Linked DNA regions of Homo sapiens: regions 1 and 2 are each linked to region 3. Evidence: fine-mapped expression QTL. A gene starts in region 3. Each other region holds a variant in brackets. All regions are shown on one strand. Distances are from middle to middle.

Region 1 (2,763 bases), 93 kb before region 3:
CTGAAGCAGGAGAATCGCTTGAACCTGGGAGTCGGAGGTTGCAGTGAGCCAAGATCGCACCACTGCATTCCAGCCTGGGCGACAAAGCGAGACTCCATCTCAAAAACAAAACAAAACGAAACGAAAAACCTTATTCTGGGGTGGGAGGTTTGAGTGAGAGATGGAGAAAATGAAAAATCGTTAGGGTAAGGTAAGCACACAAAGATACACACACACCATGCAACTTAGAGTTACAATGAACCTGCCAAACAAAAATTCGAAAATACAGAAGAAAAACTAAACCTAAAATAACCAAGTCAACACCTTCATCAGAGGGAAAAGAGAATGTTTTCTGTGTACTGATACAGAAATATCTCCTAAGTTTTGTTGCTTAGTGGGAAAAAATGGGAATCATGAAACAGTATTTATAGTATGTTTTCTTTTTTGCAGGAGTGGGAATAATTGATATTCAAGTGAATCCTTAGTCTATAGGTGTAAATAATAGAACAATTTTAAAGTGTATGTTTAAGATCCTCAGGGAGGTAAAGGAAGGAATAATTGCCATAAAAGAACCAAAATTACCAGTGTGGGCAACATAGCAAAACCTCATCTCTACAAAAAATAGAAAAATTAGCTGGGTGTGGTGCTGCACACCTGTGGTCCCATGCTACTGAGGAGGCTGAGGTGGGAGGATCGCTTAAGCCCAGGAGGTTGAGGCTGCAGTGAGCCATGATTGCACTACAGCCAGGGCAACAGAGCAAGACCCTCTCAAAAAAAAAAAACCCTGTATTAAGTAAGATGTCATTAGATGTGTACTAGACTGAACATGGTCAATGAAACAGTGATTTGGAAAATAGTATTAAGGAATTCACCCAGAATGTAGTAAGAGAGAAGTGGAAAAAAAAAAATGAATATAGATCGAGAGATTCAAACCTAAGTTCAATATTCAAAAGAAATTTTAGGAGAGATTAGACATAGTAGTAGAGAAACAGTATTCAGTGAGATAATGATTAAAAGGTTTCCAGAATTTAAGGTTTCATATTGAACTGAGTTTTCATATTGAAATAGCGCACTGCTGAACAGTTGCTTACCAGGATAAATTTTTTAAATCTTCTAGATGCTCAAAAGTGAAATTGCAGATCATAAAACATAAAAGCTTTTCAAAATGAAAAATGCCACAGTCCCTACACTAAAATATTAGTTAAATTAACAACGTATTTACCAGAACAGTGTCTTCCAGAAGATAAAAGGATCTTCTTTCCTCCGAATGTATAAGGAATATAACTGTTGACCTTGATTCTATACTCATTTAAACTATTATCTGTCAGCAAGAATGAGGCCCAAAGTGAGGAAATACACAAAATAGAGAGCTCCTCACTTACAGAAGCTTGATGGGAGAACCAAAGATTGTACTTCAGCAAGAATAGTAAACCAGGGAGAAGGAGGAATTGCAAAAAA[T/G]AATACAGTGGCAAACAAAGAATTGGCAAAATATTTGATAAATCAAGTTGAGTTGATTGCAAATACATAATTTTTAAAGTAGAATCAAAACTCTAGACAATAACAAGAAAGTTGGAAAATAGAGTTGAGTCAGGAATGCTACTATTCTTGCTTTGTTCCCAAAAAGTAGCACAAAAAGAGACACTGACCAACTTCAGGGTATTTTACCAAAACTAAATAGCTATTTTGTGGCTCTGCAGCCAGACTACCTGAATGAAAGACTAGCTTATTTCTTACTAACTGTGTGACATTAAGGAGTTATTTTACCTTCTTACGCGTAAATTTCCTTATGTATAATTGGGGATGACAATAATACCTTCTCATAGTTGTTGTGGGGAGGATTAAGTGAAATACATATAAAGCCACTGATTAGTACTACTCTATACATGTTTGCTGCTGCTGCTGCTTTTCTTTTTTAACCTGAGTAACCACAAAAGGAATAGAAATAAAATAGATGTCTTCCAGACCAGCAGAACTAAAGGAATGAAAATAAGAGAATGAAGAAGGCTAAACCCTTGGTATACCATCAGGGTCAGTTGGAATAATTTTCATTTTTGATTTTCATTTTAGAGCAGTGCCAACTATTTAGAAGGGTAGATATTATGACTTGTATTCTTAGAGATCTACCAAAGAACAAAGAGAAAATTTATTTTAAAAAATTATTCTATCTTACAGTTACCATATGAGTCCATTAGACCCTTTTTTATAAACCTAACATCCATTATGAGATCTTAATAATCTTGGCTTTTCCTATATATTGAAATATTTTACTACTCTAGGAATTTTATCATTACTTATCAATTATTTATACTGTGCTAAAAAAAAAAAAGACAAAAAAAGAATGACAGAATCTCCTAGAAGGAAGATGGAAGATGTAATAAATAGTCATTTTTCAGTTTTCTCACTGCATTGCTCAAATACTACATCCTACTTCAAAAACGTATAAAAAAATTTAGGAGACATACGAATTAGAAGATAAACGCGAAGATAAATAGCACTCTAGACCTAAGTTGTCCAATATGGTAGCCACTTGCCACATGTGACTATGTATATTTAAAATAATTAAAATTAATAAAATTTAAAATTCCATTCCTCATCACACTTTTAAGGGGTTATGTAGGAGAAGAATACAACTTACAATTACTCTTACTTCACGGTGGCTGGCTGCCATGTTGGACTGCACAGATACGGAACATTGTCATCGTTGTGGAAAGTTATATTAGATATTGCTGTTCCATACGCCAATAATGATAGTGAAATTGAGCATATAAATGAAGTCAGACTTTG
Region 2 (2,763 bases), 110 kb before region 3:
AAGGAAAGATACCAAAATACATTTGGCAGAATGTTTGTATAACTTTCAGGGGATGCAATAACCTGCCCCTTGAAGCAGATCTGTCCCCTGTTCTATACCATCTGTCCTATTGGAGATGGCTGCACTAGTCTGATGCTATTGATTGTTGACTTATCTGGTTTCACATTTTTCAAGTAATCTTCTGATTATAATTTTACCTCTCATGTAGATTTGTCTCAAGATGAGACTCTACTGATTGACCAGCATGTTTTTCCAGTGTGTTGATGAGATCATTAAGCACTCATTATACAAAGAAGGGTAGATTTCCCCTGAATTACTCATAAGTTATGAATAAAGGGTATTAACTGATTTTAGCTCATGGTTGTAGGCTGGACTATTTCAGAAGGAGAAAAATGTGCGTTAAATTAGTTTTAGATTTCAGTGGTAATTTTGACTGGTTTGTGGACTAAATATTCTTTTCTCACCATGGTTTGGTGTGTTTCTTATATGTGTAGCTTGGAGTTTTTATATATGTTTGGTTAGCATAAAAAATGTGCTTAAACTTAATCCTTAGAAAATAGAGAAATGAAACCAACTAACTTCCTTTACATGATTTATTTCAGTTGAAGGCAAATATCAAAAATGTTTATTTTCCTTTGAAAATGAATGCATTAATTGCATTTAAAACGTTTTTTAAACACCCCGAATAAGATAGCATGTTAAAGCAAGTGTGAGTTCAGTATGTTAATTGCTTGCTCTCCCAGTTTCTAAAAACCCCGTTGTTAAATGTTTTGTTCTTTTTAACAAATGAAGATCATGGGGCTATGTTCAAAAAGGGGAGAAAATTGTTTTCTTCCATGTGGTGACTAAACCTTAAAAAACATTAAGGAATATTTTCACATCTCATGAGAGAAGAGGTGTCATTCATCCTTTTTTTTGTGTGAAGAGAGCTTTTGTATTTTCTCATACTTAGAGATTATTTGAAGGCTAGAAATGGAGTAAGAATATGTACTTTTAGTTATTTTTCTGATAATAGTGATAATCTCATTTTTACTCTTTTTTCCTAGTGAACAACACTCCTTTTCCAGATGGTTGAGTTGAATTGTGGCAAAATCTTTGTTGGAAATTTTTCTTTTTTCTTTTCCTTTTTTTTTTTTTTTTTTTT[G/TG]GTTTAAGACACAGTCTCACTCTGTCACCCAGGCTGGAGTGCAATGGTGTGATCTTGGCTCACTGCAACCTCTGCCTCCTGAGTTCAAGTGATTCTCCTGCCTCAGCCTCCTGAGTAGCTGGGATTATAGGTGCACACCACCATGCCTGGCTGATTTTTGTATTTTCAGTAGAGACGGGGTTTCCCCACGTTGGCCAAGCTGATCTCAAACTCATGATGTAAAGTGATCTGCCCGCCTAAGCCTCCCAAAATGCTGGGATTACAGGCGTGAGCCACCTCACCCGACCAGAAGTTTTTCTTTAGTGTGAAATTAACTGGCCACTGTGTGGGTTTAACCTTTGATATTGGTGTCTGTGTTACTGTAGTGTAACCAACTGACTTGAATCAGTTTAGCCTTTGCTGATTTGCCAACTCTACTTGGGTTTAGATACAATAATTCTTTTTTATATCCAAGCATTGATTTTTCTATCTTCCATTCATAGTATATTAACATACTGTATATAAGAACATGTGGCTTTATGAGATTCTAACACTTAGTAGGAAAGGGGATGGGGAAGAGGAAGAGCATGTAACTATTTTTTATTCCCTTGTTATATATTGAGATGGACAACTTTGGTATGTATGTTACTAGTTATTGTTTCTTCCCACATAATTGGTCATAACTTTTTGAAAAAAGAAAAAAACAAGCTTTAAAGGGAATTAGAAGTGAATAAAATTTAACAAATGAAAAGTAGGAGTCTTTCCAGACTTCTATCATAGTAAAGAAGAAATATCAAAGAAGATTTGTTGAGAGAAATAGAAGTTGGAGTAAGGCACTATATTTTGAAAGCTAGTATTTTTAGCAAAGTGTTCTTATGGTAAAGGAAATTATAGACTCACTCACTTTATTTCATATAAGGTCAGCAATACATAAAAGTAGCCACTATACTACTTCACACTTACATATGAATGACTGATGTCTTCATTAATTCTCTGAAAGACATTTGCATTTTTAAGAGACTGATTATGATAACTTGTCAAATTTTGGTATTTTAGGCCAAGTAAAAGAGGGAAGCGAAATTAAACAATTGGGCGGGGCATAGTGGCTCATGCCTGTAATCCTAGCACTTTTTGGGAGGCTGGGTGGGGTGGATCGCTTGAGCCCAGGAGTTTGAGACCTGCCTGGGCAACATGGCGAAACCCCGTCTCTACAGAAAATACAAAGTTAGCTGTGGGGTGGTGGCCCATGCCTGTAGTCCCAGCTACTCAGGAGGTTGAGGTGAGAGGATCATCTGAGCCAGGGAGGTCAAGGCTAGAGTGAACTGTGATTGAGCCACTGCACTCCAGCCTGGGTGACAGAGTTTTAAGACCTTGTCTCAAAAAAAAAAAAAAGAAAAGAAACAATTTGGAGAAAGATCTTTCGGGTAGGAGTGATTCTTCAGAGGCAAATAAAGTATTGGGGGAGGGGGAGAGTAAAGGATTCCTGCAAGAATCACTTAACATTACGTGTTTATTTCTTTTCCTGATCTTTTTCTGACTTTTAAATTTTTCTCTTAAAGTTTCACTTTTTAGAAAATACTCAAAAGACTAATTTTGGGGTGAGGATTGTGAGGGAGAGAAGTAGAGTATGTATGAATCAT
Region 3 (2,751 bases):
GAGGCTGAAGCTGGGGAATCGCTTGAAGCCGGGACGCGGAGATTGCGGTGAGCTGAGATCGCGCCATTGCACTCCAGCCTGGACTTGAGCGAAACTCTCTCTCAAAAAGGAAAAAAAAAAAAAAGCACTTAACTGCCCATAAAGTGAGGACAACTCCCGACAGGCTTCCCCGGAGTCACTCACGTCCACACATCTTTGTCCAGCGCCCGATTAAGGCCTCTAAAAGCCCAGTGGTGCCCCATAAAAATTACACTATTTCATAAAATAAAATATTTTCCACTCGACACGAATTTCCACATACGTCAAAATATTCTATCTTCGTCTCGGTGCACGTGCAGCCTACCTACCGAAGGACCCAGCCGGATCCCAGCACTTCGGCTCCCCACGGCCCCGCCCCGCCCAATTAGGCCCCGCGGTCCCCATGGTGACACACCCCCCCGCGCTCGCAGCTCGTGGCCCACCCCCTCGGCGGCCCCTCACCTAGGCCGAAGGCCCACCGTCCCCAAGGCGTCTCGGCGACCGCGGCTCTTAACTACCTCTAAGTGTCTACCTCGATCGACTACTGGAGCCCCAACTCACTATCTCCGCGCCGGCCGAGGAACCTCCTTTCGCACCCCACACCACCGGACTCTCCCCGTTCGGCCTCCCGCAGGCATTCCTCCTTCCCGCCACCCCGCCCCCCGCCCCGCCCACCAAGTGGGCCGGGCGCCTTCCCCTTCTCGCCCCACCCCCAGTGCTCCCACCTCCCAGGCCCCCTCCCCACCCGGAGCTGCGCGCGTCGCCCCTTCCTTAGCCCAGCACCCCCACCTGGCGGGACGCGTCTCCTCCCTCCAAAAGGCCCGAACTCTCCGCGTCTCCCCTGCAGCCCTCTTCCTGCACAGCCTCTCTCCTCCGACCCTGTTTACAAGCTACACCCCCAAATGCTCCAGACTCGACCCCTGCACTCATTCAAGCCAACTCTGCGGCCCCGCCTCCTCCGAGCCCAGGGCCAGGCCGTGCACCCCCCCAACCCCCTGTGCGAGCCTCCCCTCGCCGGGTTCCAAGCGCCCCGCCGCTATGCCCCCGCCTTCGACCCCACCCCCACCCCGCTACCTGGTGGGGGCAGCAGGCGCTACCGATCTCCGCAGCCCTCCGTTGAGGTTCTTCGCCTTGGGCGGTGACGCGGAGCGCGCCAAGGGCCTGGGCCCAGGCCCAGCCTCGCTCCAGGCCGCATCCCCGCCTGGGGAAGGAGAGGCCCCGGGGGCAGCGGCGGCACGGCCGCCTTCGCGTGAGGCCCTGGCCGAGGCCTTGTTGGCATCACTCAGCGCCGGAGACTTGGGGAAGAAGCTGTACAGGGTGCTCTGTCGCGACATACCGACAGCCGGCAAGGCCCAACCGTTCTGTCGGACGGAGCTCCTAAAAGCACCGCATCTACCGCGCGGCTCCTGCTGGCGGGAAATCTGGGGGGAGGCGCGCTCCGCCGGAGGAACCCGGGCCCCAGTGGCCAATCAACAGGCGCCTCGCCGTGCGCGGGCGGTGCGCGCCAGGCCCCGCCCCCGGGCGCGCGGCGACGTGGGGAAGGGCGGGGCTGGCACACTGGTGGGTAGGGGCGGGGCTGGCACGCTGGCGGTGAGGGGCCCGCCCTGCCGCCGACGCCTGGGCCCCGCGCGGGGAACTGCTGAGCTCCCCTTCCCTCACGCCGCGGGGCTGGCCGGGCCGGAACACTCCGACCCGGGGTTAGTTGCGGCCGCGGGGCTAGCAGGCTCGGAAAGCCCTGCCTCTCTGGAGCGGAAGCGGGAACAGCGGGGGCGCGCACCGCCCGGGCGGGGATAACCGGGGGGACCCGAAAGGCCTCGGAAAGGGGCTCGCGGGGAGAAACGCGTCCAGCGCTCGCGTGACCTCCTGCCGTTAGAGCATTTTCGCAAGGAGACGGAGCGAAAGGGACCAAACTTTAGTCAGCAGTTCACCTTCACGTTGTATTCTCAAGATTTGTATAGAGTAGGCACTTGGTAAACGCTAAATGAATATTGTAATAGCATTCGTTAGCGATGCTGTTGTGTATGGTGAAAGCCTGCAGCTGTACAAAGTTTTCCTTTGCCAGGCACTGATCCCAGCATTTTACATCTGGTAACTAAATCGATCCTCTCAATAACCTGTGACGTAAGTACTTAAGGGCCACAGTCCGTTATCTGAGCCCTTTGACCCAGGTGTGTCTTTACAGGATTTTTCAAATTTTAGAAAGCTAAGAGACTATGAGAGGCCGGGCGCAGTGGCTCACGCCTGTAATCCCAGCACTTTGGGATGCCGAGGCGGGCGGATCACCTGAGGTCAGGCGTTGAAGACCAGCCTAGTCAACATGGTGAAACCCCCGTCTCTACTAAAAATCCAAAAATTAGCCGGGCGTGGTGGCATGCGCCTGTAATCCCAGCTACTTGGGAGGCTGAGGCAGGAGAATAACTTGAACCTGGGAGGCAGCGTTTGCAGTGAGCCAAGGTCGCGCCACTGCACTCCAGCCTGGGCGACAAGAGCGAAACTCCGTCTCAAAAAAAAAAGAAAGAAAGCTAAGAGGCTATGAGAATAAAAAGGTTCTATTCAAATTCAAGAAAGATAGTGGAAGACAGACAATTGTTTGTCCCCTTATCCAGATTGTGAAATCCAGATTGCCGGAAACCAGTCACAATCAACAGCTGTACATTGGTAAAAACCTATGTAAAATTAGTTGTTTGCCTTGTTCTTGGAGACTGTTCTGCCAGAAGGTTCTCCTTTGCTAGG

Alleles and levels. Positions count from the first base shown, and alleles are read on the strand shown. Sizes are in standard deviations (SD) of each study's normalised expression.
With allele T in place of G in region 1, the expression in neutrophils of the gene that starts at base 1,441 in region 3 is higher (large effect, 0.81 SD a copy in CEDAR).
With allele TG in place of G in region 2, the expression in neutrophils of the gene that starts at base 1,441 in region 3 is lower (large effect, 1.1 SD a copy in Naranbhai 2015).

Evidence for each region. PIP is the estimated chance that this variant, and not a neighbour inherited with it, causes the effect.
Region 1: its variant is fine-mapped to the expression of MSH6 in neutrophils (CEDAR, PIP 0.95).
Region 2: its variant is fine-mapped to the expression of MSH6 in neutrophils (Naranbhai 2015, PIP 0.95).

The regions. Positions count from the first base shown.
Region 1 is chr2:47,875,041-47,877,803 of GRCh38, reverse strand. The region is part of intron 1 of FBXO11 (F-box protein 11); the gene reads left to right. Among named protein-coding and RNA genes, the nearest start is that of FBXO11, 30 kb to the left of the region's middle. The variant T/G (reference allele first, on the strand shown) is at 1,438.
Region 2 is chr2:47,896,083-47,898,845 of GRCh38, reverse strand. The region is part of intron 1 of FBXO11 (F-box protein 11); the gene reads left to right. Among named protein-coding and RNA genes, the nearest start is that of FBXO11, 9.0 kb to the left of the region's middle. The variant G/TG (reference allele first, on the strand shown) is at 1,145.
Region 3 is chr2:47,781,835-47,784,585 of GRCh38, reverse strand. MSH6 (mutS homolog 6) reads right to left here and starts at 1,441. Exons shown (of 10, transcript NM_000179.3): 1 at 1,093-1,441. The coding sequence starts at 1,352. RefSeq lists silencers at 659-748, 949-1,108, 1,389-1,868 and an enhancer at 1,999-2,068.